4 linked regions of the Homo sapiens genome follow. The protein of the gene in region 1 interacts with the protein of each later gene in a pairwise test. Each region holds a gene or a part of one and is shown on either strand. Other genes may lie near its edges. The genes, in order: TMEM237, SLC35E4, TMEM72 and POMGNT1.

Region 1 (7,314 bases):
TATACATATTCCCTACTGTCTATTAATAAAATGGATTAAGCAGATTAAGAACTCTTACTTGTGACTGATTAAAATCAGCTTAAACTCTGAGGAAACTATTCTCACAAAAGACCAGAATTCTGATTTAAAAAAAAAAAGACACCAAAACAGTTAGAAAGGGAATGGATCCATTATCCTACCATGTTGATATTCAGGCTTTTAAATATAACATTCCATTATAACTGTTATTCTTAAAATTCAAGGATTTTTCACCTTTAAAATTTCAGAAAATCCCTAAATTTTTCAGAAGAGTTTCCTGAATCATTGTAATTTTGCAATGATACTAGTCAATTTTTCCACTGTCTTCATTTTCCATTTTTAAAGCTCAATAATGAAATTACTGTAAATTATTTTTACCTTGGCACAGGTGGAAGAGCTCGTGGAGGACGCTGTGGCGGAAAAAATAAATTTGCTTGTAAGTAAAAGCCTAGAGCATCTTTACTTCAAATACCATCACGCTATTTTTTTTTTTTTGAGATGGTGTATTGCTGTGTGGCCCAGGCTGGAGTGCAACGGCACGATCTTGGCTCACTGCAGCTTCCATCTCCTGGGTTCAAGCAATTCCCCTGCCTCAGCCTCCCAAGTAGCTGGGATTACAGGCACCCACCACCATGCCCGGCTAATTTTTGTATTTTTAGTAGAGACGGGGTTTCACCATGTTGGCCAGGCTGGTCTTGAACTCCTGACCTCAGGAAATCCGCCCACCTTGGCCTCTGAAAGTGGTGGGATTATAGGAGTGAGCCACTACGCCCGGCCAAAGCAATTCTTTCAAAAGTCTGTTGTTCAGACATGACAGAAAAATATAATGGATCAGACTAGGATCTTCAAATCTCTTGATAATCTTGTTCATCAGTGAAACCTGGGAGGTACTGATGAGAAACATGGGCAATTTAAAATTTGTTCTCCCATCCTAAATTTCATATAAAATTCCTTCCTTCCTACATTCCTTTCCATCTCTAGGCCAGGCCCTTTTCTAAGCATTAGGAATACACTAATGAACACAATGGAGAGAACTCTGCTCTTATGAAACTTACATTCTAGTGGTTGAGTATTAGAAACAATGTTAAAAATATATATATGATAATATATACTATATATTATATGCAGCATGTACGATAAAATATATTTATATGCTATATTTAAGACATATCTTGTATACATATCGTGTGTGCATATATATATATATACACAAGATACACACACACAAAACGTAATGAATGAAGGAGACTGAGTGCTACTTTTGTTAGGGAAAGTTTCTCTGAGTTTGAGCTGAGACCTGAATGAGAAAGCAGCAACCGGAACAAATGCAAATATTTTTAGGTTAAATTGGGCTTGGAATGTTTCAGGTAAAAGGACAGCAAGGCTGCCGCACAATTACCAAGGAGAGGTAGGCAGGAGCCAGATTAGTTAGGGCCTTGCAGACCAAGGGAAGTTTGGATTTTGTTTTAATTCAATGGGAAACAAATGGAGGTTTTAAACCACATACTAACACAATTTTTAAAAAGGCCAGTTGCATACACTGGGAAGAATGCGTTTTAGGGCAGAAAGAAAGGTGGGGGGAACCCTTCTAAACCCTCATTTACATGAATAAGAAAAGTGTTTGTAGTTCAGACAGCATTACAGTTGAGAAGTATTTTAGAATCATATAGTAACAGAAATGCCTAGAAGCCAATTTAATGTTCCAAGTATCTCATGCTGCTTGCATAAGACATTTATTCAAAAGGGTTAAATTTTAGACACTCTTGTAGTTTGTCCCATTTAGCAATCCATTCGTTCGAACAGTAGATTAATGCAAGTACTACAAGATTAGGACGAGGCAAGCTGCCGTAATACCATCCAGTAGTCAAAATTACAATTGGAGAAGAATGACAGTCACAGGAACGCGCTATTGTTCTAAAGATGCTACGAAGCGCGCGCGATCGATCCCAGGGCTCTGTTCACGTAACTGATTTCAAAAGTCCCGCAAAAATGACGTTCCACCCACCCAGAGACCCAACCTCTAATCCTCAAAAGTAGGACGGCTCAACTGAAGACAAAAATCCTAACAATTAAAAGTAGCTAAGGCTCGCTTACCACAGGATTCTTCCCCATTCTGCGTTTAGCCGGCCTCGGCGGCCGCCGGCCCCCAAGCACCTGGCGCCCCACCCCTCCCGGCTCGGTCGCGCGCGCAGGCGCAATGCGTCATCGGGCCGCGCCGCCTGGCTAGTACCCCGCGCGCAGCGCCCTGCGGGGATGTTGCGGTGAGAGGCGTGCAGGGACCTGGATTGGCCAGTCCAGACTAGCCCTGCCAAAAAGGGGGCCTCGGAGTTGGGGGTAATGTGCCCAGGAGCAGAAATCTGGCGACCGTGGCGCTGCAATCACAGCTTTCCCGTGGTTTCCTAAGTGGTGGCGGTGATTTGTTTGCGGGAAGCGGGGCGTGACGGAAGACCTTAATTAAAGGACTCCGCAGGCGAACAGATCTCTTCTGGGCAGCTACAGACCTCTCCTCGGAGGAGTCTAGGAGAGGCCTGGCTGGAAGCCCCGGCACCCGCCGGGCCCCGGGCCTCAGATGAGTGAGGCGTCGTCGTGGCAACGCGGGCTCAGGTCCCCGCAAACTTCATGCCAGGCCTCTCTCTCCCACTCCGGGAGTTCGGTCCCGGCCTCGCCTGCGTCTCCGTCCCATTCCTGTGAACACTGGAGGGGCGGATGCGCGCACCCCACGAGCAAGGCCCTCCCTTAGTGATTCCCAGCTCGTTGGCGCCCCCCCACACACACCCACCCCCACTGCCAAGTGTAGCTGTTTACCCGCCACCTCTCGAGGCCGACGCGCCCCTCGCCGCTCACCAGGTGGCCCTCCTCCAGCCGAGCCCCCGAGTCAGTCCTCATGGTGCTCTCCCCGCGGGGCTGCCCCGGCGCAACCGCCGGCGGCCCGAGCCCAGCTCCCCGCGACGCAGCGGCCTCCGGGACCTGTGGGACGCCGGGGCTTCGTGGCGCCTGGCGAGGCAGCCGCCCCCTGAGCCAGGTCCCCGCCCGCCTCTGTCCTGCCAGGCGCTGCTGGGTTTGGGAGGAATGCGTTTACTCTCCAGGACCAACGAGTCTGTGCAGGCCTGGGTGTGTGGATGTGTATTAATATAGGCAATTCTCACATTTTCTCCGATTGCTTACCCTTCATCCCACAACTGTGTAAATCAAATTTGGAAAAACTTTTTCTCAACCTTAAAATCAAATCCAACCTCACATAAATATCACTACAAACTACCTGATTTGCATCGTTTGGTTTGGTTGGGTTTGTTTTTTTTTAAAGATAACTTTCACTTTAAGTAACAGAGAACTACAAATATTTTGAATCATGCATTCTGTTTTACAGTTAAGAAAGAAATGGGAAAGATGGAAGAATGGTGTGGATATGGAGAAGAGAATGATGCAGAAGATGAACAGATACAGGGACAGGGAAAGCGCCTGGAAATCTCAAATCTGGGGAAAGAAAGAGAAACAGCACTTTGTAATGGCATCCTAATCTTGTTACCAAACAAACGGGGCTTGTTGCCCTATACGCACAGAAGCCAATATTATGGCGCTGATTTTTTGAGAAAAGTTTTCATTGTGAGTCAGCTAACAAGGAGACAGGAGTATAGCTCTAATCTGTCTCCCTGTGTTGGCTTTAAGACAGTATTTTTATTAGAAAACGTTTAGGGGGTGGATTCTGGGATTAGTAGGTGATTGGTGGAAGGAAAGAAGCCATCTGGAAAATCCTCTGGCGTTCGCAGTTACCTCTTCATGTCCCTTCATGGGTCGCATGTGCAAATTTTGGAGGGAGTCAGTGTGAAACATGGGGAAAGATTCAAGCTGTGACGCCAGCAAGCTCATTTTGTACAGACTCCAGGTAGCCATCCGTGTTAGTACTAACCACTTTCAGCCAGTTTGCTTTGTTTTGTTTTGTTTTGTTTTTTAATCTCACAATGGAAGAAGTTTAGGCGTTTTATTTAGCAAGTTGTTTTTTATCTGCCGTCCTGCATGCTCAAGAATTTCTGTTAGTCCCTGGTTTCTTTAACTCTGAGACACGGTTTCACTCTTGTGATTTTCTATATATAGGTCTCTGGGATTAATCCATTGCCTTTTTCTAATTTAGGCCTGCATGTAGATATTGGCTGTTAAGGAAAATTAGTGTTTGTCACACCTCTCATGAGAATAATTTTTTCCTTGTAGGCCGATTTGTAAATAGTGAAGGCAGTGCAGTTTCTTGTAGGTTTTGATTTTAGATGTGAAATGTGTACATTAAACCTTTCTTGCTGAGTTAGTCAAGTAAGCACTTTTTGTAAAAGATGTTTTCATAAAACACGTTTCATAGAGTACAGTTTCTAAAGTTAACTATTGCTTATTTTATTTAGGAAAGCTCTTTATTTAAATCTTAAAAAGATCATGTGAAATCTGCGAAAGGTTCTCATACTCAGTGACTTAACATTATTCATATTTCTACCACAGCTGCATATGAGGTAAAGGAAAAAAAATTAAGTTAAAATAGGTAACCACATAACCATACAATAAAAATTTTTTTCAAATAAGATTAATTAATAAATTGCTGCACTTTTAAAGTTGTACACATTAAAATGGGTCAAATACTGTTGTTTTAGATTGCAACTATGGATCGCTGTATCAAGGGTACAGTGTTAAAACTCCAGCATTAAACAAGAAGTCTCATTGAGACTCAGTATCTGAGGAAATCCATGTTGCTGGTACCCACTGAGGCTCCTCCTGAGCCTTCTGTATGGCAGACAACAACTGGGCACATGCATCGTGCAAGCTGTCATTCACAATCACATGATCAAAAAATTGGCCAAACTGAGTTTCCATTCTTTGGGCTAAATTTTCCATCTCTTGTAGGTCTTCATCCTTTAGGAGAAATAGAAAAATATGGATAGTACAGACTTAATTGGACAAATGGAAAAAATACAGTTTGTTATGCTGTCACATTCAGTTGTGAAACTATGTATAAAAACAGTAAGGTCCGAAAATTTTGCACAGATGATTTTCAATAAAGTTTCAAAAATATTTTTTCAAAATTCTACAAAACCAGCAAACTAGAAAATAGTAATTTTTTTGCCCTCTGTTATTGAAATAATGTGGCTAAGTATAGATAAAATAATTTTTTTTTTTTTTAGACAGGGTCCCACTCTGTCCCAGGCTGGCATGCAGTAGGATCATCTCAGCTCACTGCAGCCTCTGCCTCCCAGGCTCAAGTGATCCTCCCACCTAGGCCTCCCAAGTAGCTGGGACTATAGGCACATGCCATCATGCCCAGCTAATTTTTGTAGAGAAAATATAATTATTATAACAGGTATAAACATATCCTTCTAAATTAATGTGAAGCATAAGCAAAGCTGGGAAAAGTATATCACTATCCACAGTATGTCATCCTTTATTTCTTAGAAATGTATTACTGAGATAAAGAAATTTTAATTTGGAAGTTTTTTTAAATAATAAAAGACTGAAGTTTTTATTTTAAAAAATGAGGTCCAATAAATGTCTTCTAAACTACAAAACTTATGTTTTAATCTTTAGTCTTAATGTCTCGTCATGTTTTGCAAAATTTAGTCATAGTTTGCAGACAGATTACTCCCCTCAACTTCCCGTGTGAACTTATCTTACTCTTACCTAAACACTTGAAACTTTTTAACCATATACAACATAAAACCAAAGAAAATGTACCAGTTTAAATAAAATTTAAACATAAATTTCAAGTGAACATTAATCTGATAGGGATAACATTAAAGATACAAAATGGCCACTTTCAACATGAGGATGGTATAAGCCAGTTATATTATGTTTCTACTATTGTGAAATGTTCATTTAATGAAGGTAATTTGGCATTCACTTGGCACTAATGCATTAAATTCATTGCTGTTATTTTCTTATTAGTTCATGAAAATAGTACAACTTGTCACCAATACAATCTGAAACACAAATGCAGGCACCAAAATCTTGTGGCTTTACAAAGTGACCATACATATGATCCAGAAACAATTTTGTTAATTTGTTTAGACTGCCATAAAAATGAGAACAATTTTAAATGCCCATAAGACTCAGCAAATACATTCATGGACTCCACTGTTCACAAGGCAAACTGGAAAATCAGACCTCCATAGTCATTGCAAAAAATATGAAAATAAAAATAATAAGAGAAAGGATAATTTAAAGATACCTGTGCTTGCTTTGGTAGCACACAGACTAAAACTGAAACAATGCAGAGATTAGCATGGCCCTTGTACAAGCATGACATACAAATATTTAGTGAATCATTCATATTTTTAGTTTCAATTTTGCCAGGTAAATAAATTCTAGAGCTCTGTTTCACACAATGTGAATATACTTAACACTAAATACTAACACTGAACTGTACACTTAAAACGGTTAATATGGTGAGTTTTATGTATTTTTACCACACATATACACACACACACAAGTGGCTGTAATATCTTGATGTGGGTGATGGTTATCTGGGTGCATACACACATAAAAATTCATTAAACTGTACACTCTGTACACCTTACTGAATGTATGTTATGACACAATATTTAAAGCATATTTAATGTAAAATATATGTACGCAACCGGAAAAAAAATCACCTGTTCTAGGATGAGATCACTGATTAATTTCACTTGGCTTGCCCCCTCTATTATTACCATCATCATTTTACAGATGAGATATACTCACTGAGCATTTTTAAAGTAAGCTTTTAAGTAAAAGATATTCTGTTTAAAATACAAACACCAGGCTCATACATGCCCAATTTCTGTTTGGCTTTGCAAACTACGGCTCAAGGATTTTTTTTTAAGCTAGACCCAAAAAAATAAGAAAGTAAAAAATAAGGGTAGCATCATAACATTTATTAAACTTTATATCTGTAAGTGATGTCCATCCAAAAGGATAAATCGTAAGGGCATTATCCATTAGAAACAAAAATTACATTCTCTAACACAGATCCTGTAGAAACAATACAGTTTTAATTTTTTTTTTAAATAAAACCATAGTAAACCATTTTATTGAGGGCCTTTTGGAGAGGGGGTCAAAAAGGAGGAGGAGGACAATGAGATCAGAGATCCTTGGCCCAGCCCAACCCAGATCTCTCCCACGCAGAAGCCACTGAAAGCAATACAGTAGTTTTTGACTTGCTCTTACCTTGAACTTCATGTCCACATAGTAGTCAGTAATAACCTTGGCATTTTTCCGAGATTGTTTCATACACCTCATATTCGATGGCTTTATAAATATGACATAGGGCTTCAGTTCATGGGTTCG
Region 2 (7,621 bases), on another chromosome or scaffold:
ACCCAGGCTGGAGTGCAATAGCGTGATCTCAGCTCACTGCAACCTCCGCCTCCCAGGTTCAAGCGATTCTCTCACCTCAGCCTCCTGAGTAGCTGGGATTACAGGCGCCCACCATCACGCTCAGCTAATTTTTGTATTTTCAGTAGAGACAGGGTTTCCCCATGTTGGCCAGGCTGGTCTCGAACTCCTGACCTCAGGTGATCCACTTGCCTCGGCCTCCCAAAGTGCTGGGATTACAGCTGTGAGCCACTGCGCCTGGCCCAATTTTTTTTTTTTTTTTTTTTTTTTTGAGATGGAGTCTCACTCTGTCGCCTTGGCTGGAGTGCAGTGGGGCGATCTTGGCTCACTGCAACCTCTGCCACCCGGGTTCAAGCTATTCTCCTGCCTCAGCCTCCCGAGTAGCTGGGATTACAGACACCTGCCATGGCGCCCGGTTAATTTTTTTGTATTTTTAGTAGAGATGGGGTTTCACCACCTTGGTTAGTCTGTTCTTGAACTTCTGACCTCATGATCCACCCGCCTCAGCCTCCCAAAGTGCTGGAATTACAGGCATGAGACACCGCGCCCGGCCCCAATTTTTGTATTTTTAATAGATACAGGGTTTCACCATGTTGGCCAGGGTGGTCTCGAACTCCTGGTCTCAAGAGTCCTCCCACCTCAGCCTCCCAAAGTGCTGGGATTACAGGCATGAGATACCATGCCCAGCCTGTCAAATCATGAACTTCTCTGGGTCTTAGTCCCATCATCTGTAAAATGGGGATAAAGTTGGTGGTTGCCATGACAACTCAAGGTCAACACTCAGCACCAAGCCTGTCACACTGTAGCTCCCAGTAAACAACAGCCCTCCCCAGACTTAGACCTGACCCCTGACCTTCCAAATCCCAGCTCATCCCAGACCCTCCTTTTCTCTCCCTGGCCCATGCTTTCTGGCTTTCCTTTGTGTCCAAAGCCTCAGGCCACATCTCTTGGAAGCATGGAGTCTGACTATCTGGGTTTAGATCTTGCCTCTGCTGCTCACTGGCCACGTGGCCCAGGGCAAGCCTCTTCATCTATCAAATGGGAACAATACAGTGAGATAAAAGGCTAGTCAAACACAGATCACTGGCTATCACTAAATACTGGTTTGTAATTCCAGAACTTCAGGAAGCTGAGGGGGGAAGATCGCTGAGGACAGGAGTTCAAGACCTACCTTGGCAACATAGCAAGACTCTGTGTCTATAAAAAAAAAAAATTAGCTGACCAGGTGGGGTGGCTCACGCTTGAAATCCTAGCACCTTGGGAGGTCAGGAGTTCAAGATCAGCCTGGCCAACATGGTAAAATGCTGTCTCTACTAAAAATACAAAAATTAGCTTAGCGTGGTGGTGTGCACCTGTAGTCCCACTTACTTGGGAGGCTGAGGCAGAAGAATCACTTGAACCCAGGATGCGGAGGCTGTATTGAGCTGAGATCTCACCAATGCAGCCTGGGTGACAGAGCCAGACCCTGTCTAAATAAGTAAATAAACAAATAAACACGAGTTGGGCCTCCAGAGCCTGAGTCTGGGGCCTGGAACTCACTGAACTGTTGGCCCTCTCTGAGCCTCAGTTCTGCTTCCTCCACAGCCATGAACCTCAGTTTCCTCATTTGTAAAATGGGACAACAGCCATACCCCTCACAGGGCCATCCAGGCCATGCACCCACCCGGACCCCCACCTTCTCAATTGGCCACCCAGGCACTTACTTTGCTGAACCGACTTGAGTCCGCGGAGGCAGGTGGCTGCGAGCAGGAAGCCACAGCCGGTAGGGGGTGTCCGGAACTCTCCAGCCAGGCTGCAGGCGGCCCCCAGGCAGAGCGGACCCATGGCGGCCAACTGAAGTGGGTGGTGGCGGCGGCCCAGCAGCAGCGCCGACAGGGCCAGGGTGAACAGAGGTGTGGTGGTAGTAACCAGTTGTGCCAGGTCCAGGGGCACAGCCCTTAGGCCCACGTTGCCGCAGGCCATGGACGTGCCAAAGGTGAGACTGAGCAGTAGGACTCGGCAGCGAGTGCCGCCTGGCATGGGGCGCCGTGCCCCCCGGTGGCATGCCAGGGCTGCCACCAGCATGTGCAGGGCCGACAGCAGCAGGGGCCGCCCAAAGCCGTGCACTGTGAAGATCCACTTGTTGAGGCTTGACATGCTGGCTCCCGCCAGCAGCCACACCAGTGCTGCCATGGCCACTCGGGCCCGGCCAGGCTGCCGGAGGGCCTGAGGGCTGCCAGGGGGCCACTCGGGGGGCCCAGCCGCCTGAGCACCACCAGCTGCTGCTCCTACTTCGGCTGAGGTCATCCTGCCATCATGGTGCTCCGGCGGGCAGCGGCACATCCGCACCAGTGAGGCTAGGGCAGGAGGCGGGCTCCCCAGTGACGACCTCTGGGCCACCAGAGAGTTCCGCTTGGGGCCAGGCTAGATCCTGGTTCCTCCGACCCCGTGTCCCGTTTCAGACAGGTGAGGACACTGCTTACTTGTGCCAGGCCTGTGCCAGCGATGTCTAGAAGCTAAGCTGTGTTTCCAGCTCAGACAGGGCAGAGCCAAGGTCGCGGCTGCTAGGATGCCAGGGTCTCCGATGCTCAAGCGTGGGCTCCAGGCACCTCTGCCCCGTGCCAGGTGGTCTCCACTTTCCTCCTCGCCTAGTGCCCACGTTATGCTTTTAGATGAAATCCTCGTTCCTTTTTTCTCTTCAGTCCCCAGGTCATTAGGGTGCGCGCAGATCCAGACCCTGGGAACTCCTGCGTGCTCTGGCCGTGACCAGGCCTGGCAGGGGGGCGATCTGGGCTCCGCGCCTGGCGGTGCCCGGCCCGGGGGGTCGCGGGCTCGCTGCCTCCCACAGCGCCCGGGCAGTGAGCTGACACCACGGCCCGTCCTCCGGCCGGTGCCTGGCGGCGAGCTAGGCGCGGATCCAGCAGGGCCTGCGCTCCAACTCCTGCTCTCTGAGGCTTTGGCTGCGGCTCTGGCTGCGGCTGTGACTCCGGCTGCGGCTCCTGCTGCGACTCACGCCCGGCTCCAGCTCAGGCCCGGCACGGCGGGCGCGGCGGTGCGCTCTTGACTCCGCCTCCGCCTCTGCCTCCCCCGCCGCCGCCCGCTCCCTACACGGAAAATTGGGCTGAGCACCCCAGCCAAGCCCCGCCCCAGGCCAAGCCCCGCCCCCGGACCGGGAGGGCGGTCTTGCCCCGCCCCAACGCCTCCCGCTCACAGCCCCTCCCCCATCGGCCTGGCATTTCCCCCATCAGCCCTCCTCCGCCCGGGGCCTGCGCATCTGCCCAGTAGACCCCCCCACGAGCTGGCGTGGTCAGCCTCTCTTCGCCGCCAGGGGGGACCAAGTCGCTCCCCACCCAGCGCCAAGGCGAGCCCTCCATGGAGATGAACGCGCATTGCTGGAGACACTGGGGTATCCCGCACAGCCGCCCAGGCTATCTTCAAGAAGCAGGGTAGTGAGGAGGGGCCCACAGCCCCCATCCTAGGACCAGTCTTACGCCCACCTGATCTCTGGCCACAATTATCTCGTGGGACCTCAGCATCCAGCAGAGCTGGATTACGGGGTCCCTTAAGGCACCTCCATCGCCCCTCCGTAGCCCCAGCATCCTCCCCAGCCTCCCAGTCCAGGGCGGCGCCCCCTGGGGACCCTCAGAGGGAAGCTGAATCACCAGGCAGGGATACCCACAGCTGCGGAAGTAGGTACCGCCGGCCGGCATCCTTCCCCGGCCAGCAGCCTCTGTCCGGTCCCCTGAGCACTCGAAGCTGACTCATAGCAGAACTTCCTGGGGTCCACCCTGTGCCCCAGCCCCGGCAAGACAGAGCCCTGGGCTGGGAGGCAGAGCGGTTGCCACTGAGCCCTTGTTCCTGTCTGGGTCTCGGTTTTCCCACCAGAACGACAGACGCTCTCTGAGGTCAGGATTGGGTAAACGGCGCGCCCCAGGGCAGAAGAGGTCCATCCAGATTCCAGGCTAGGCCAGGCCCTGGCCCCTCTGAGCTCTGAAGTCCGGGAGCACGAGGACCAAGGCCCAGCCATGTGCCCAGTATCAGATGTGAGCCTCTTTCCTGTTGTCGGTCTTCCTACTAGGCTCCTGCCCAAGAGGACCCAGCTCACCCCTTGCCTGTTGTCTAACCAGCAAATCCTTGATGACAGCAACCTGTCTTGAGACACAAGATCTCAAAGGGGTACCGCTGAACCCAGCCCGCTGCGCCCTCTGGTGGCCAGGCGCTGAATATAGCCCTCAATCCCCATCCCAATCACAGGACGCGGGTTTAAAATCCCCAGCCTCAAAGGAGGCCTGCTGAATCAGAGGCTCTCTGTCACGGGTGGGCCTGGGAATTTACATGGTCACATTTGCCTCTGTAAGTCCGACGCCCGCTGGAGCCTGCAGATCTCTGCTGAATAGCCTAAGCTACAGCGCAGGGGGTGCAGATAGGGAAATTTCCAGGCCAAGGACCAAAAAATGGTGGCATTTAGTGTTTCTCCAGAAAGGGTTGTGGAAAGGAAACTAAGCCAGCCAAAGCGGATGGCCCCTCTCCCGCACCCCCTTGCCATTTCCTGAGGAAGAGAAATCTGGGACCCCTAAGGGTTATAATTATCTTTGATATTTTGTCAGGTTTTTTTGTTTGTTTGTTTTCCAAGACCGAGTTTCGCTCTTGTTGCCCAGGCTGGAGTGCAATGGCACGATCTCAGCTCACTGCAACCTCTGCCTCCCAGGTTCAGGTGGTTCTCCTACCTCAGCCTCCCGAGTAGCTGGGATTACAGGCGTGCGCCACCAAACCCGGCTAATTTTTGTATTTTTAGTAGAGACAGGGTTTCACCATGTTGGTCAGGTTGGTCTCAAACTCTTGACCTCAGGTGATCCACCCACCCTGGCCTCCCAAAGTGCTGAGATTACAGGCGTAAACCACCACGCCCAGCCTGGATTTTGTCAGTTTTCTAGTAAGTCTCCTTTAGTAAAAAACAATAGTCTGGGTACAGTGGCTCATGCCTGTAGTCCCAGCACGTTGGGAGGCTGAGGCATGAGGATCACTTGAGCTCAGGAGTTGGAGACCAGCTTGGGCAACAGGGCAAAGCCTCGTGTCTACAGAAAATACAAAAATAAGCTGGGAGGCTGGCCGAAGAGGTTCACGCCTGTAATCCCAGCACTTTAGGAGGCCGAGGCTGGCGGATCACTTAAGGTCAGGAGTTGGAGACAGCCTGGCCAACATGGTGAAACCCCGTCTCTACTAAAAATACAAAAATTAGCTGGGTGTGGCGGTGGGCGCCTGTAGTCCCAGCTACTCAGGTGGCTGAGGCAGGGGAATCGCTTGAACCCGGGAGGCAGAGCTTGCAGTGAGCCAAAATCACACCACTGCACTCCAGCCTGGAAGAAATCGCACTACTGCACTCCAGCCTGGACGAAAGAGCAAGACTGCATCTCAAAAACAAACAAACAAACAAACAAACATGAGCTTGGCATGGTGGTGTCTGCCTGTAGTCCCAGCTACTCAGGGGATTGGGAGGGAGGATCCCTTGAGCCCAGGAGATGGAGGCTGCAGTGAGCTAAGATTGCACCACTGCACTCCAGCCTGGGTGACAAAGACCCTGCCTCAAAAAAAAATTTTTTTTTTTTTTTGAGAGAGTCTCGCTCTGTCGCCCAGGCTGGAGTGCAGTGGCACGATCTCAGCTCACTACAAGCTCCGCCTCCTGGGTTCATGCTATCCTCCTGCCTCAGCCTCCTGAGTAGCTGGGACTACAGGTTCACGCCACCACGCCCGGCTAATTTTTTGTATTTTTAGTAGAGACAGGGTTTCACCGTGTCAGCCAGGATGGTCTCGATCTCCTGACCTTGTGATCCACCCGCCTTGGCCTCCCAAAGTGCTGGCATTACAGGGGTGAGCCACCGCACCCGACCAAAACTTTTTTAAATTTAATTAAAAAATAATAAGAGAGAAAAAACCAACAACAGTAATATTTTTTTTTTGAGATGGAGTTTCGCTCTTGTCACCCAGGCTGGAGTGCAGTGGCACAATCTCAGCTCACTGCAACCTCTGACACCCCCCGACCCCGGGTTCAAGTGATTCTCCTGCCTCAGCCTCCCAAGTACCTGCCATCATGCCTGGCTAATTTTTGTATTTTTACTAGAGATGGGGTTTCACCATGTTGGCCAGGCTGGTCTCGAACTCCTGACCTCAGGTGATCCACCCACCTTGGCCTCCCAAAGTGCTGGGATTACAGGCATGAGCCACCTTGCTCAGCAACAATAATAATTTATATATACATAAATTTTATTGCCCTCTCCCTCTCCCTCTCCCCACGGTCTCCCTCTCCCTCTCTTTCCACCGTCTCCCTCTGATGCCGAGCCGAAGCTGGACTGTACTGCTGCCATCTCAGCTCACTGCAACCTCTCTGCCTGATTCTCCTGCCTCAGCCTGCCGAGTGCCCGCGATTGCAGGCACGCGCCGCCACGCCTGACTGGTTTTCGTATTTTTTTGGTGGAGACGGGGTTTTGCTGTGTTGGCCGGGCTGGTCTCCAGCTCCTAACCGCGAGTGATCTGCCAGCCTCGGCCTCCCGAGGTGCCGGGATTGCAGACGGAGTCTGGTTCACTCAGTGCTCAATGTTGCCCAGGCTGGAGTGCAGTGGCGTGATCTCGGCTCGCTACAACCTCCACCTCCCAGCTGCCTGCCTTGGCCTCCCAAAGTGCCGGGAGTGCAGCCTCTGCTCAGCCGCCACCCCGTCTGGGAAGTGAGGAGCGTCTCTGCCTGGCCACCCATCGTCTGGGACGTGAGGAGCCCCTCTGCCTGGCTGCCCAGTCTGGAAAGTGAGGAGCGTCTCTGCCCGGCCGCCATCCCATCTAGGAAGTGAGGAGCGCCTCTTCCCAGCCGCCATCCCATCTAGGAAGTGAGGAGCGTCTCTGCCCGGCTGCCCATCGTCTGAGATGTGGGGAGCGCCTCTGCCCTGCCGCCCCGTCTGGGATGTGAGGAGCGCCTCTGCCCGGCCGCAACCCCGTCTGGGAGGTGAGGAGCGTCTCTGCCCGGCCGCCCCGTCTGAGAAGTGAGGAGCCCCTCCGCCCGGCAGCCGCCCCGTCTGAGAAGTGAGGAGCCCCTCCGCCCGGCAGCCACCCCGTCTGTGAAGTGAGGAGCGTCTCCGCCGGCAGCCACCCCGTCCGGGAGGGAGGTGGGGGTCAGCCCCCGCCCGGCCAGCCGCCCCGTCCTGGAGGTGAGGGGCGCCTCTGCCCGGCCACCCCTACTGGGAGGTGAGGAGCCCCTCTGCCCGGCCACCACCCTGTCTGGGAGGTGTGCCCAGCAGCTCATTGAGAACGGGCCATGATGACAATGGCGGTTTTGTGGAATAGAAGAGGGGGAAAGGTAGGGAAAAGATTGAGAAATCGGATGGTTGCCGTGTCTGTGTAGAAAGAAGTAGACATGGGAGACTTTTCATTTTGTTCTGTACTAAGAAAAATTCTTCTGCCTTGGGATCCTGTTGATCTGTGACCTTACCCCCAACCCTGTGCTCTCTGAAACATGTGCTGTGTCCACTCAGGGTTAAATGGATTAAGGGCGGTGCAAGATGTGCTTTGTTAAACAGATGCTTGAAGGCAGCATGCTCGTGTCATCACCACTCCCTAATCTCAAGTACCCAGGGACACA
Region 3 (7,020 bases), on another chromosome or scaffold:
ACTCCTTCCATCCCTCCCTATTATCCCACCTCAGGCTCCCCAGCTACTCTCACCCCAGCCCAACAGAGGTACCTTATGCCCACTCCAGCACAGCTCACCCCACGCCTCTGTCTCACTCCCTGCATGATCCCAGGAGGTGCCTTGCATCGCACCTTGATGGAGCCATTCATGGACAAGCCTGGCCTCTCTCATCTTGTTAGCTCCTTCCCTCCAGTCTCTGTCCCTCCTGTGTGGGCCAGATCCAACCTTGGTACAAGAACTTTCTTCTCTCAGGGTCCAGGGCTTGCTTCTGTGTTGCTTTCCTGAGCTGTTTGTTGTAGTTCAGGCTTAGCAGAGATCAGAGATCCTGGGCCAAGAGCCTGTGGTACAGCCCTGGGCAGGGCAGCCACTGTGTGAGTATCCTTCTCATCCTGGAGCTCTGGTCTCAGCATGGGTTGACGAAAGCTAGGAGGGGGCTGCACCAGAGCAGAAAGAATATGGGGCCTGCATCAGAAAAGCTGAGTCCTGCATCCTCAGGAAAGTGATTAACTCTTTGGTCTGCATCTTATTCTGGAAAATGGGGAAAATAAAAACATGCAAAATGGTGCCGACCACTGCTCAGTCTAAGTAAATGAGAGTGCTGCACAAATGCAGACGATGGCTAGGAAAGCTATTATAAGAGGCAGGCGGTTCCCATCAGTATTCTCCAGTGGAAGGAGAGGGTTTATTCTCATCCTTTGCTCCCATTAACACACTTGTGGGTTTTTTTGTGGCCAAAAAGCTGTTCCCTGTGCACCAGTGTTGCTTGTTGTTCACTAATTTACTTTGAGGTCCCTTCTCAAAGCCCAGTTGGGATATAAGTGACCCAAACTCCCATCTATCTCCACATCTCTTGTATTAGCCCTCCATAACCCTGCTAGGGTCCCCACGGGGCTCAGGCCAGCATGTTCCTGAGGCTGGGGCCATCTGCGGGGCTGCCTACTGAGGGGATATTCCCCTGGCCTCAGGCTGCTGCTGCTTTTGCCATAGGGCTGACCTCATGATCCACTGTTGCTTATCCGTTCTGACTCCATGGGTTGAATTGTGACATATGTCTTGCATTTATTGTGATGCCCTTGGTGGTAACATGGGACGCTTCACAGTCATCAGAGGCCACACTAACCTTGGCACTGGATGCCCTGGGCATTGGATGAGAATTTTGTACTCACTGTTGCTGAGGGCAGCCTCCGAACCCACCGCGTATATTTATTGCTTCTTTTCATTCTCATCTCCTGCTGGACTCAGGGTGTCCAAAGACACCTCAGGGAAAGACGCTCCAGGCTGATGACAATGGGCGTGGATGGTCCAGGAGAGGTGGTCACCGCCAGGGTAGAGGTGAAAAGCTAGATTTGTACCATTTCCAAGACTATGGAGTTGCTGGAAACAGTTGCTGTGAATTCACTGGGACAGTAAGGTAGTAGCCACAGGCTTCTTAGCTCAGAAGTTGTGGCAAACAGTAAGCATGGTGGGGAGGTTTACCTACGTGTGGAGATCAGTTCAGCTGATATACATGAGCCAGGGTTCAGAGACAGTGTGGGAAAAGGGAAGGATTTCATGGCAGATATTTCTGGACATTCAGTTGGAAGAGACTTCAGATTGAGCTCCTATTGAAACTGTATAGCAATTTGGGGGAGAACTGATGTCTTAACGATATTGAGCCTTCTGACCCATCAACAAGATGCATCTCCATTCATTTAGATTTTCTTTGTTATCTCTCAGCAATGTTTTCTAGTTTCTAGTGTAGTTTGTTTTACATCTTTTGTCAGATTTATCCCTAAATATTTCGGATTTTCAATGCTATTATAATTTGTATTTTTAAAGATTTCATTTTCTAATTGTTTGTTGCTAATGTATGGAAATACAGTTGATTATTATATATTAAGCTTGTCTTCTGCAATGTTGCCATTCCCTCCATTAGCTCAAGTAGCTTTTGGGGTAGATTCTATTAGATTTTCTACAGATGATAACGTCATCTGTGAATAAAATTTTTCTTTTTCCTGGACAATCTGTATGCATTTTGTTTCTGTTTCTTGCACTGGCTAGAACCTCCAGTACAATGCTGACTGGACGTGGTAGAGTGGACACCCTTGCCTTGTTCCTAATCTTAGGAGGAAGCACCTGGTCTTTTACATTTAAGTAGATGTATGTTTTCTGTAATGACCTCTTAAGGTTGAGGGAGTTTCCTTCTGTTACTAGTTTGCTGATGATAGTTTTATTTTAATCATAAAAGAATGTTGGATTTCGTTTAAAACTTTGTGTCTATTTAGATGATAATATGGTTTTTCTTTTTTAGTTTTTAAATATGATGTCTTAGTCCATTTCGGCTGCTATAACCAAATCCCATATACTGGGTACCTTATAGACAACAGAAATTTATTTCCTACAGTGCTGGAGGCTGGGAAATGCAAGATCAAGATGCTGGCAGATTTGGTATCTGAGGGACCCCTTCCTTATAGAAAACTGTCTTCTCACTGTTACCGCACATTGTATGATAGAAGGGCCTAGGGAGCTCTCTCAGGTCTCTTTTATAAGGGCATTATTTCCATTCAGAGAAGGCCCTACCTCCTAATACAATCATGTTGGGTGTTAGGATTTCCACATATGAATTTGGCTGGGGGGACACAAACATTTAGTCCATAACACATGGTAAGTTACATTAATTGATTTTTCAAATATTAAAACAACCTTGCATTTCTGAGATGAACTCCACTTGATTATGATATATCATTCTTTCAATATATTTGTATTTGTTAAAACTTTGCTTAGAATTTTTGCATCTATATTGAGAAGAATATTAGTCTATAGTTTTCTTGTAATATCTTTGGTTTTGGTATCCACATAAATACTAATTTTATAGAATGAGTTGAGAAGTATTGCCTCCTTTCAAATTTCTGGAAGAGTTTGTGTGGAATAGATATTTCTTCCTTAAGTGTTGGTAGAATTCACCTGTGAGGCCATCTGTGCTGATACCCCACTCTTTGGTGATGAGGAAGGACTCTGCAGACCCATATGGTTCATTGGCACTACTGAGGATAGTGTCTCCCACGTAGAATAGCATCTCCCTTGTAAGTACCCTGGTATGGTTTGGCTGTGTTCCCACCCAGATCTCATTTTGAATTCCCACCTGTTGTGGGAGGGACCAGCAGGAGGTAATTGAATCAGGGGGGCAAGTTTTTCACGTGTTGTTCTCGTGATAGTCAATAAATCTCAAGAGATCTGATGGTTTTAAAAAGAGGAATTCCCCCACACAAGCTGTCTCTCCTTGCCTGCTGCCATCCATGTAGGATGTGACTTGCTCCTCCTGGCCTTCTACCATGATTGTGAGGCTTCCTCAGCCACATGGAACTCTAAGTCCAATTAAACCTCTTTCTTTTGTAAATTGCCCAGTCTTGGGCATGTCTTTATCAGCAGTGTGAAAACAAACTTATACAGGCCCACAGGAGAAATTTCTTTTAGGTCTCAATGTCAGGGAGAACCGAGGTATTCACTTCCTATTCCTTCTCAGTGTTCAGGGAGAATGCATCTGCTCACTCATCCACATGGCAGGTTTCCAGAAAGCATTGTCCATGCTCCCATTGTTCTCTGTCCATTCCACACACATCAGGCTTCTTCATCTGACCCTTACCTGGTCTCCTGGGGGTTTCCTGAGCCCCTTCTTCACAGTGTCAGCCACTTATGTCAGACAACATTTCTTTTTGTTCACAGCCCTCTTCAGAAGGCTGAATAGAACCCAGGACAATCTTGAAAGAGCTGTCATCCCATGAAAAATAAAACAGGGCTGCCATCTTTCCTCTGGTTGGCTTACTATATGTGGTGTAGAAATAGCCAAGTTCCTGTGGGCTGATCTTCACAACCCAAGCTCAGAATGTGATGGGAAATGTTTCCCAGTATAATGCTCTTTACAGTGTAGCCCCTTCCTCCTTCCAGCCTCATGAGTCACATACTGCTTTGCTCCTTTCCTCGGATCTTCCTTCTTCTTCCTTCCAACAAAAGGAGCTGATAACTCATGCTACACAGTTCCATGCCCTGCACGTTCCTCTAAAATTAGCCCATGCTGAGTGAGAATCTATGTGCCAGGCAGCTTGCTACTTTAGCCATTGTTTCATTGAGCCCTCACAACTCCAGAGGGTAGATACAGTGATTGTCCCAGGACACAGACCCACCTCCCAAACACTACGCTGCAGTGCTTGGTGCTCGGATGTGCACTTACTAGTTTGCTTCTCTGTCCAGCCCATACACTCCCACAGGGCAAGGTCTTGCCATTCTAATCCATGTGTCTATGCTGCATGACTGGGGACTCAGGACTGGGGATGCAGGACTGGACTGCATCCTGCATCTTGGGGTCATCAAAATACTATGGGACATGCTTTTTAATCCTGATTCAGGTGGAGGAAATAGCGATTAGGAGTGGAGTCTCAGGAGCAGATCACTGGGGACTCAGCAACAGTTTGCCAAGTAAATGAAACCTAATTGAAGTTTCAGATTTCTTGTTATAAATCTAGAAGCAAGGCACAGGCACAAAGTTGTGAAAAAAGAAATGTTTGAACCAAATCCTATTGCCTGTTGGTGGTAGGTGGGGGGAACAGAGGGAGGCAGATTCCATTTACTTGTGGAGCCAATTGTAACAGAAAAGGAAAACAGTCAACATTCACTTGGAAGGTCTGAAAATACAATGTGGGCTCACTTGGGTGATAAATCTCTTGCGAGGCGTTGGAGTGCATGACACTTTCTTAAACAGCAGGAGGTGGTCATGGGGATATACATGTAAGAGGGGTAAAATTAGCATGGAGGGCCCAAGATGGCTGCTTCAGAAGCATTTGTTTTCCTGAAGGCTTTGAACAGGGCTAAGGTCAAACTATGCATTTGCTCTATCCTTTAAAATATAATGAGAACAGCTGGGTTTTAAATACTTCTTTTCTCCTAATGTACATTAATAAGCCAATGCTCTAACTGTGTGGGAAGCATGGGAGCAGTTGAAAATGTGGCTGTGTCCATTATATAGAGAAACAGGTTAATGGGTCAAAACCTGGAACAAAATAAAACCCCTCAGTGATTCCAGGTTGATTCCAAGCACTCAATTTGTGAGAAACAGCACGTCAGCCTGACAAGCAGAGTTCACTCAGAATGGCTTTGCCTCCATCCCCTCATGCCCTGCTGGCTCTGCCATGCCCTTTGCTTTGGAGCTGCCATAACACAGCCCTGTGTTTGGGCAGAGTGGAGTTCTAACACCGGACCTCTGTCTCCTGGCCATGTGACCTCTGCCAGGTTACCTCAATGTTCTGAGCTTCAGTTTCCTCATTTGTAAAATAGGACTGAGCCCAGCACTCTAGCGTCTCAGGCATTTGTGGGGCTGGAGCGAGACAATGACCATAATGCATGCAGTCAGCCCTGCACCTCTGGACCCATCAAGGCAAGCCCTACTGTGATAGTTCCCCCTGGAAATGTGTGCAGATTTGTCTGTCCCCAGATGGGTTCCAGGAGCAGATTTGGCTAGAGAAGGTCACGGTGGTGCTGGTTAAAGCATGTGTGGCAATCTTGAGATAGAGAATGGATAGCTGCAATGAATATCGGTGTCTTGAGATTTAGAAAGTGTTTGGTGATCCTTGACTATGTGCTTCACTGTACGTGTGTCCTCACCATGACCCCACCTGACTGATCAGAACTGACCAAGGGCAGGAGCATGAGGGTAGAGGATGGGGAAGTTCTGATCAAGCCTCTCCTGCTCTCCTCTGTGTGTTTTGCATCCTGCATCTTGGGGTCATCAAAATACTATGGGACATGCTTTTTAATCCTGATTCAGGTGGAGGAAATAACGATTAGGAGTGGAGTCTCAGGAGCAGACCATCATCAGGTGGAACTTTGTCTTCTTGCTTCCTGGTGTGAGACCCTGAGCAAGATGCTTCGCTCCATCAGGCCTCGGTTTCCCTTCCTGTACAGTGGGTATGAGGATGAACATGATGATGCTCCCAATGACAGGAGGATGAAATGCGATACTGCATTTAAAATACACAGTGCAAAGCTTGGGCTTTGAGTATTATTTGAGTAAATACTCAAATAATCATGTTCATTCTCAGCAACCTCTGCTCTGGGCAGAGGCTGGAAGAGTGAAATTCAGCCCTGGAGATGGGGCAGTGGGGCCTCAAGCTGGAGCCTCTTTGCTCTGAGGGAAATTGGGAGGCCTTGCTCAAGTGCCCAGAGACATTTTCTGAGCAAGCCTCTTATGGGGAAGCCCATGCACATCTGTGTGTGAGGACACAGCCTGAGGGGAGGGCTTTCACTACAAGGCGGGGCTCAGGGACATGTCTCCCCTTCCCTCCATGCCCAGCCTGGACGGCCTGAGAGGTGCCTCCTCTGTCCCACAAAGGGGGCTCTTCCCATGCTCTTCCTGGCCACCTCAGCAGGGGCTGGGGAGTGGCAAAGGAGTTATTCAAGATTCCCCTGAGGTTAAAGGGTAAGAGGATGGCTGAAGTTCAAAGGGAAGCCAACCCTGCTTTCCTAGCCTGCAACTGGGACCAATGCTGTGGGACAGGTCCTTTCTCATCTCACAGGGGAGGAGTGCCCTGGACCGCTGTGCTCCAGGCTCAGTTAAATCCATTTCCCAGGACCCCTTTCCTGCCATTTGGTCTGTGCTGAGAACCTGTCACAGGGCTGAGCCTCCTCTGGGGCCTGAGTCTCACACTCAGGACATCTTTACCCTGTCTCTAGTGGACACGGGGAGAACCTGCTTTGAGGGATGGACAGGCAGGAGCTCCGGCATCCGCACAGGGGAATGTGGAGTGCTCACAGCCTGTGTGCCATTTCCCAGCTGTGTCTGCTTCCATGGGCGGCAATGGATGCCGCGTCTCAGCAACTGAGGCACTTAGACATCACACGGGCGCATGCATGCACATGGACCCATGGGCGCCTGCCCCCCAACCCCACATCCTGAGCCAGGGAGGTGAAGCAAATGAACCCGGTGTAAACAATGCGGGAGTGGTCTGTTATGTCCTGGAAACCACATGA
Region 4 (7,842 bases), on another chromosome or scaffold:
CCTTCTCTTTCTAAAATGTCCCCTCCCCTCTATCATTCATTATCCCCTGCTTTATTTTCTTCTTTATACAAGTTATCATTTACTAGCATTATCCACATTTACTTGGCTGTTTCTGTTGACCTCCCACTGCTGGAATATAAGCTCCATGAGGGTGGGGACTCTGTCTTGTTTCCCATTGTATCTTCAGCACCCAGAGAAGTACCTGGCATACAGCTGTTGCTCAATAACTATTTGCTGAATTAATACAAATGTTAAGGCTGAGATTGGAACCTGAGTAACCTTCCTTCAGAGAATCTTCCCACTATGTTATATGAGGGGCAGAGAAGCCGGGGCTAGAAGCAGGGTTGGAGCTAGGGAGTAGGGGTCAGGGTCAGGACAGAATAACTGACCTTGACAGTGCAGATGAGCACTCGGCCGGGCGCTACCATGTTGAGGAATAGCACCATGGCCTCATCCTCATGAGGTGAGTACGTGTCAAACACACGTTTTGCCATCACGTGGCCCTGGCAGGGGATATACTTCTGGTGAGTTGGTGTCATCAGCAAGAGCCCAGCTCCAGCCCTCTGGGTCACCCACCCCTAGAAACTCACCGTGGCCTGGTTGAGGACAATGACATGGATGCCCCGGCCCTGCTCCCGGGCCTCATCCTCCAGCACCTACACAGTGGCAGAGACAAAGTCCAGCTTTTCACTCTGGCATTCAAGGTGTCTCTGTCTTAGGGGTACTTAAAACACCAGCTGCTTGAAACATCACCTCCTGCCTATGTTTCTGTTCACACAGTTCTTTTCCAACTCAGCTCGAAGGCCACCTCTTCCAGAAAGCCTCTATAGCACTCCCATCAGAAGAGATCACGTCTTTCTACAACCCTCCCCTCCATGACTTTCATGGCTCTTAGAGCCTCTGCTGTCTCTGCTTCATCCTGGAAGTATCACAATCCTCCACCACACTGAACCCCTCAAGGTAGGGCCAGGTCTGATTACTTTCAGGTCCCCAGTGCCCAGCACAAGGCTGAGGCCAAAGAAAGGACCAGGGGATGGTTATAAAATAAATCAATGAATTGACTGCCTACTATTATGAATGATTACTTTTGAGATCCCACTACATACAAGACACTTCACAAACTTTTCATTGAATCCTGACAAGTAGAAATCATTAGTCCCAGTCTATAGATAAGGAATCGAGGACTCCAAAGTCACACAGCTAGAAACTGGCAGAGTTGCAGTTCCCACTTAGGCAGTAGACCCTGCTGCCAGTGGACCATGCCCTGAGCAGAATAGAGTGACTGTACACCAGACCCTGGCCCACTGACCGTGGTGCCATCCACTGCCACATATACTTTGCTGCGACTTGAATACACCTCTACGTCCAGGACCCGCCGGGGACCACTGCCTCTGCGCCGTGGGGGCTCCAGGCGGCCTAGGGCCTCATCTGTGGGGTACAACAGGTCATGGAGATAGTCTCCTCAGCAGAGTCTCACCGCTTAGGGTCTGCCTGCCACTCCAGCTGTGAGATCCAAGGCCCCCTACCCCATCCTTAGCCTAGCCCTACCATAGTCTTGCTCTGGCTCTGGGTCTTCATTGGCTTCACTGATGGCTCGCCGAGTGTCCAGGATCAACTTGATATTGACAATGACAGTCACCAGCAGGAAAAGCACGGCCCCTGTCTGAGGGGAGGGGTAGGGATGATTAAGAGGAGCACCTCCTTCAGATCCTAGAGGGTCTTTCTGAAAGGAGGGCCCTGGCTGCAGTGAAGACATCCAGAGAAACTGGGTCCTGTCCCTTCCTCTGTCTGCCTAGCTCTACTCCCCTGACCAGGGCCTAGTTTCACAGCCACTTTCCCCAGGGAACCTCCCCTGACACTTCCCCCTCCATTAGGGCCCTCCCTACCCAGTGCTCCTGTATTCTTCTATTTGAGACCTTGATTTCCTTGGTCCCCTCCATTGTTGGTTTCTAGAGATGGAGCCAGGCCCAGGGACCCAAGCGGGGGATCAGACCTGGGTCCTGGCCCTAACTGCCTCACAGGGGTGTGCCTCTCTGCAAAGCCAGCCTGATCAGACTTCAGGCTTCCGTCAGAAGCTTAGAAGTTGTACTTGGGTTCCGATTCCAGAACTTTGGGTTCAAATCATTACCTATAGGGACATGACACATAGAGGTCTCCCCTCTAGGAACCTGCTGCCCCTTTCCCACTGGGGCTGGCCAACAGGGGTCCCAGTGCCTGATTTAGGTGGGGAGGAAGCTGGGAGGGAGCGCTCGGTGGGGAGGGTTTGGGACATCTCTATACCTGACAGAATCTCCGCAGGGCCCGCTGGTTTGTCAGTTTATACTTCCAGGTAAGGTACCAGCTCCGCTTCTTCCGAGCCCCAAAGGGCTTGATGAGGGGGCTGGGCTTCCAGTCGTCCATACCGGATTGGCGGGTCACCAATGTCCTGGCCAGCCCATGACTTCAGGAATCTGAAGGGACCAGAGGGCCACATGGGGTAAGATGCTCCTCCCAAAGTCTGATGCCTTCTGGGGAGATGAGGGAGGACCTCCCAGCAACTCTTCCCTGCAAGCACCCATACTGTGTGACATGGGGAAAGTGGCTCAACTTCTCTGGGCTGGCAGGAAACCCTTCAGTGGGGTTGGATCACCTGGAAATTCCCTGAGACTGGAGTAACTCTCTGAATCAAGGCTGTCCAAGGGTGGAGGCCAAATAATCGGCTCAAAGTTCGTTAGCCCCTACAAGGACCAAGTTCCAGGCCTTCCCAAGCCTGTGGTGAGCAAAGAGCGACCTCTCCTGCCCCAGTCTTCAACCCTCGTCCCATCCTATCTGCCCCAGCTTCTCTCCTCCTCCCAGGGCCCGGAGCCGCCCGAGGGCTCAGGAGACCTGCACCGGCAGCGCTACCCGTTCCGGACACCCACGCGGAGGCACTCACGGCTTAGGGGCCCCGGGCCCCGCTCGGGCCCCGCTAGGGCCCTCACTGCTCGGCCCGGCTCGCCGCGGCCTCCGCCTCCTCCATGCCGCTTGCGGCCCCGCCCCGGCCTGGCCCGCCCCCCCGCTTCCGCCGCCGCCGCCGCCGCCGCTGCCGCGGGGTGAGAGGGCGACGGGCGGTGCTTAGGGCGGCGGCGGCGGCGGCGGCGGTGGCGGCAGCGGCGTCGGGGTGTAAGCAGCCAGCGAGTAAGGCGAATGCTCAGACCGTGCTAGGCAGCTTCGCAGCCCGGCTGGCTGGTGGGGCTGCCTGCACGAGAGCAGCCCGCTCCCCAGCACCGCCGATGGCAAGCCCGACTCCAGTCAGAGGCCTAGCACCTTGGACCAGATCACAGGGCACGCCAGGGTCAGAGGGGCTGCAACCCTTGGACACAGGGCACACACCACCCGCCCCATACCCGTCCTGGGCAAGGCCGTTACCTAGTCCTGGGGCATGCACAGCTATTGGAGGCCAAGGGAGATTAAAATCCAGGTTCTGTCACTGTTCTAAGCACCTTACTGATGATGTTTAATTCCACAACAACCCCATGAGGTAGGCGCTATTATCATTATTATTGTTTTTTTTTTAATTGAGACGGAGTCTCGCTCTGTCGCCCAGGCTGGAGTGCAGTGGCACCATCTCGGCTCGCTGCAACCTCCGCCTTCTGGGTTCAAGCGATTCTCCTGCCTCAGCCTCCTGAGTAGCTGGGACTACGGTCGTGCGCCACCACACCCAGCTAATTTTTATATTTTTAGTAGAGACGGGGTTTCACCATGTTGGCCAGGCTGGTCTTGAACTTCTGACCTCAAGTGATCCGCCCGCCTTGGCCTCCCAAAGTGCTGGGATTATGGGCAGTGAGCCACCGTGCTGGCTATAGGCGCTATTACTATCCCTGTCGCAGATAAAGAAATAAGACCTAATATCACAAAGCTAGGAGAGGTGGAATTGAAACTCAGCCTAGCTCCAGATTCTGCTCTTAACCACTGCACTCTGCTGGCAACAATACATAAGAATTGCCAGGTTTAAATAACATCATACATAGAAAGCAGTTAGCTTAACACAATGGTTCTCAAACTTTAGCTTGCGTCAGAATCACCTGGATGACTTCTTAAAACAGAGGTGCTGGGCCCCATCCCTAGAGTTTTAGATTCAGTGGTCTGGGGCAGGGTGGGATTTTGCATTCCTGAGAAGTTTCTAGGTGATGTTGATGCTTGTTTGAAGTGGATAGCCATAGAACAGTTTTAGGCAGGGGAGCAATATAATCCAATTTCTGTTTTAAGAGAACCTTTACTTTTTTTGTGGAGAATGGGTTGGAAGCAGACAGAGGAAGCCAGAAGACCAGTTAGATTTTTTTGAGCTTTCTGTATTCCATCTGCTTCCTGAATGGTGGGGTAATATCCCCCAAAATGAAATGTTAACAGTACTTGTCTTAGGAGTTAAAGAAATACATGATTTTTCCTAGTAAGTATGTATAAGAATGGAAGAAAACCCAACACATTTTATTACATTTGAAAAGATGTCCCGGCTGGGCACCATGACTCACGTAATCCCAGCAGGTTGGGAGGCCGAGGTGGGGTGGTCAGTTGAGGTCAGGAGTTTGAGACCAGCCTGCCCAACGCGGTGAAACCCCGTCTCTACTAAAAATACAAAAGTTAGCTGGGCGTGGTGACAGGCGCCTATAATCGTAGCTACTCAGGAGGCTGAAGCAGGAGAATCGCTTGAACCTGGGAGACAGAAGTTGCAGTTGAGATTGCACCACTGCACTCCAGCCTGAGTGACAGAGCAAGACTCCGTCTCAAAAAATAAAAAAATAAAAATAAATAATTAAAAGATGTCCCTCAGGGTTCCTTCCTGACCCTCTTTTCTCCTCAAACTGACTCTTCATGGATGATCTCATTCTCTCATGACCTCTGTTACCAATCTAGATGCCCAAACTGACATTGGCAGTTCTAACCTCTTTCCTGAGCTCCAGGCTGCCTGATGTCCAGCAGGACATCTTCACAGGCCCCTCTAACGCAACAGCACAACTTCTGGAATCATTTCCTTTCACTCCTAGATTTCCTGTGGGTTCCCCTCCTCAGTGAACTGCACCAGGCCAAACAGCTGGGAGTCACCCTTGACTCCTTGTCTGTCTCCAGTGACCAGTCCAGGTATGTCTTGCTCACCATTGTATTCTCTACACCACACACAAAGGCTGGCACATAGTAAGCTCTCCGTAACATTTGTTGAAATCATTCATTTGTATTTTTTAACAAATTTTTATTGAATGCCACTATAAATGAATGTAACCAGTCACCTAGTCCTGTCAGTCTTACCTCCTAAAGAGCCTTCCATTCTAGTCTAATTCTTCTTTGACCTCACAATCAGCCCCAGTGCAGGCCATTTCAGTTTCTTGCTTTCCAGCCAGTCTCCTTGACTCTAGATTTTTACTCCTCCTATCCTTTTCTCCTTGCAAAATCCAGAGTGATTTTCTTTAAGGCAAATGTTGCCGGGTTCGGTGGCTCATGCCTGTAATCCCGGCACTTTGGGAGGCCAAGGCGGGTGGATCACCTGAGGCGGATGGATCCGCCTGGCCAACATGGTGAAACCCCGTCTCTACTAAAAATACAAGAATTAGCTGGGTGTTGTGGCAGGTGCCTGTAATTCCAGTTACTCAGGAGGCTGAGGCAGGAGAATGGCTTGAACCTGGGAGGCAGAAGTTGCAATGAGCCAAGATGGTGCCACTGCACTCCAGCCTGGGCAACAGAGCCGGACTCTGTCTCAAAAAAAAAAGACAAATGTTTTGTCTATCTCTAACTTAAAACCCTTCCATGGATCAAAAAGTACCAAGGAAAATGATGTTACTTAAAATTATAAAGGTAGGCCAGGCATGGTGGCTCATGCCTGTAATCCCAGCACTTTGGGAGGCTAAGGTGGGAGGATTGCTTGAGGCCAGGAGTTCGAGACCAGCCTGGGCAACATAGCGAGACTCTATCTAAATTTTAAAAAAAGTTAATTACAAAGGTAACCTTAGATGAACTAAAAAGAGTGATAGAAATATGTAGTGCCAGGCCGGGCGCAGTGGCTCACACCTGTAATCCCAGCACTTTGGGAGGCTGAGGCAGGCAGATCACGAGGTCAAGAGTTCGAGACCAGCCTGACCAACATGGTGAAACCCCCGTCTCTACTAAAAATACAAAAATTAGTCGGGCATGGTGGCACGTGCCTGTAATCCCAGCTACTCAGGAGGCTGAGGCAGGAGAATCGCTTGAACCCAGGAGGGCAGGTTGCAGTGAGTCAAGATCGTGCCACTGCACTCCAGCCTGGGCGACAGAGTGAGACTCCATCTCAAAAAAAAAAAAAAAAAGAAAAAAGAAAGAAAAGAAAAGAAATATATATTGCCAATGGGGGAAAGGAACTACAGAGTGTGAGTTAAACCCATATATCCATATTTATCTGAATAGGACAATAAACAGCAGATGAATGTTTAAAATTGAGAAGTAGTGTGGCTGGGCATGGTGGCATACTCCTGTAGTCACAGCTGCTTGGGAGGCAGGAGGATTGCTTGAGCCCAGGAGTTTGAGTCCAGCCTGGGCAATGTAGGAAGACCCTGTCTCTAAAAAAGAAAAAATAGTGGTAGGATTTACAATAAGAGGATAGTTACTCCTACCCTACCCTTTCACACCTCTAGGCCCACTCCCAATTGGCAACCACTTTTAGTTAACTCTAAACAATAACGTTATGGGTATGAACACCAAAAGAAAAAAAAAAACTAAAAGTTATTTTTTGCCAATTGGGAGTGGGCCTAGAGGTGTGAAAGGGTAGGGTAGGGGTAACTATCTTCTCATTGTAAATCCTTCTGCAACCATGGGCTGGAATTACTTGAATTAAAAGCCTAAACAAACCAGAGTTTTCATGGCTGTTCATTACCTGTTAAATAAAACCCAAACATCTCAGAACCATTTTCTGTAACCTTGTTACTCAAAGTGTGGTCCCTTATTACTTGAAGTGTGGACCAGCAGCATGGCCATCACCTGGGAGCTTATTAGAAATGCAGGATCTTGGCTGGGCGCAGTGGCTCACACCTGTAATCCCAGCACTTTGGGAGGCCAAGGCAGGCGGATCACTTGAAGTCAGGAGTTCAAGACCAGCCTGGCCAACATGGTGAAACCCTGTCTCTACTAAAAATACAAAAATATTAGCTGGGCATGGTGGCGCATGCCTGTAATCCCAGCTACTCAGGAGGCAGAGGCAGGAGAATTGCTTGAACCCAGGGAGGCAGAGGTTTGTAGTGAGCCAAGATCGCGCCACCACGCTACATCCTGGGCGACAGAGCGAGACTCTGTCTCAAAAAAAAAAAAAAAAAAAAAAAAAAAATGCAGGATCTCAAGCCCCACCCCAGATTTACAAAATCAGAACCTACATTTTAACAAGATCCGCAGATAATTCATACGCACAGTCAAGCTTAAGGAGCATCTTGCTTGTAAGCCCAACGTGGACCTCTTCAGCTTCAGTACTGGTTGCCCTTTTCTACTCCGTTAGCCTGAATTCTAGCCCCTGGGGGGGGGGGGTGGTGTGTGTGTGTGTGTGTGTGTGTGTGTGTGTGTGTGTCTAGCTAAAATCCAGTCATCGTTTTATACCCAATTCCTCTGCTCCAGGAAGACTTCCAAGCCCTCTGCAGCTCTCTGTTACCGCTGTTCCTTAAACTCCCACATCTCTGACTGAAGCTGCTTAGACTTCATTCTGCAAACATGTATTGGGCGCCTGCTGTGTGCCTGGCTGGATTCAGTGCCAGGGTGGGGCGAAGGCGCTGAGGTCTCCGAGTGCTCTTTCAGGTCCAACTCCAGAATCGCCCAGCCCCACGCAATCCAGGGCCAGAGGTTGTGTGCGCAGCACTCGAATACATCCACAGACGG

The links.
Region 2: the proteins of TMEM237 (region 1) and SLC35E4 interact in binary tests that used the Homo sapiens proteins (3 or more experiments, as listed by UniProt).
Region 3: the proteins of TMEM237 (region 1) and TMEM72 interact in binary tests that used the Homo sapiens proteins (3 or more experiments, as listed by UniProt).
Region 4: the proteins of TMEM237 (region 1) and POMGNT1 interact in binary tests that used the Homo sapiens proteins (3 or more experiments, as listed by UniProt).

The regions. Positions count from the first base shown.
Region 1 is NC_000002.12:201,640,497-201,647,810, forward strand, and holds the start of TMEM237 (transmembrane protein 237), read right to left. Parts: upstream 3,008-7,314; 5' UTR 2,905-3,007; coding exon 2,863-2,904; intron 2,175-2,862; exon of another isoform or gene 2,131-2,174; coding exon of another isoform or gene 2,113-2,130; intron 429-2,112; coding exon 397-428; intron 1-396. Other genes in the region: MPP4 (MAGUK p55 subfamily member 4), read right to left, coding at 4,714-4,908, 7,195-7,314. UniProt on the Homo sapiens protein: Component of the transition zone in primary cilia. Required for ciliogenesis.
Region 2 is NC_000022.11:30,631,170-30,638,790, reverse strand, and holds the start of SLC35E4 (solute carrier family 35 member E4), read right to left. Parts: upstream 3,011-7,621; 5' UTR 2,341-3,010; coding exon 1,722-2,340; intron 1-1,721. UniProt on the Homo sapiens protein: Putative transporter.
Region 3 is NC_000010.11:44,914,335-44,921,354, reverse strand, and holds part of TMEM72 (transmembrane protein 72), read right to left. Parts: intron 1-7,020.
Region 4 is NC_000001.11:46,195,422-46,203,263, forward strand, and holds the start of POMGNT1 (protein O-linked-mannose beta-1,2-N-acetylglucosaminyltransferase 1), read right to left. Parts: upstream 3,014-7,842; 5' UTR 2,915-3,013; exon of another isoform or gene 2,630-2,914; intron 2,451-2,629; 5' UTR 2,401-2,450; coding exon 2,281-2,400; intron 2,129-2,280; exon of another isoform or gene 1,941-2,128; coding exon of another isoform or gene 1,887-1,940; intron 1,664-1,886; coding exon 1,549-1,663; intron 1,429-1,548; coding exon 1,310-1,428; intron 1,069-1,309; exon of another isoform or gene 880-1,068; coding exon of another isoform or gene 781-879; intron 657-780; coding exon 591-656; intron 504-590; coding exon 390-503; intron 1-389. Other genes in the region: TSPAN1 (tetraspanin-1), read left to right, coding at 781-879. UniProt on the Homo sapiens protein: Participates in O-mannosyl glycosylation by catalyzing the addition of N-acetylglucosamine to O-linked mannose on glycoproteins.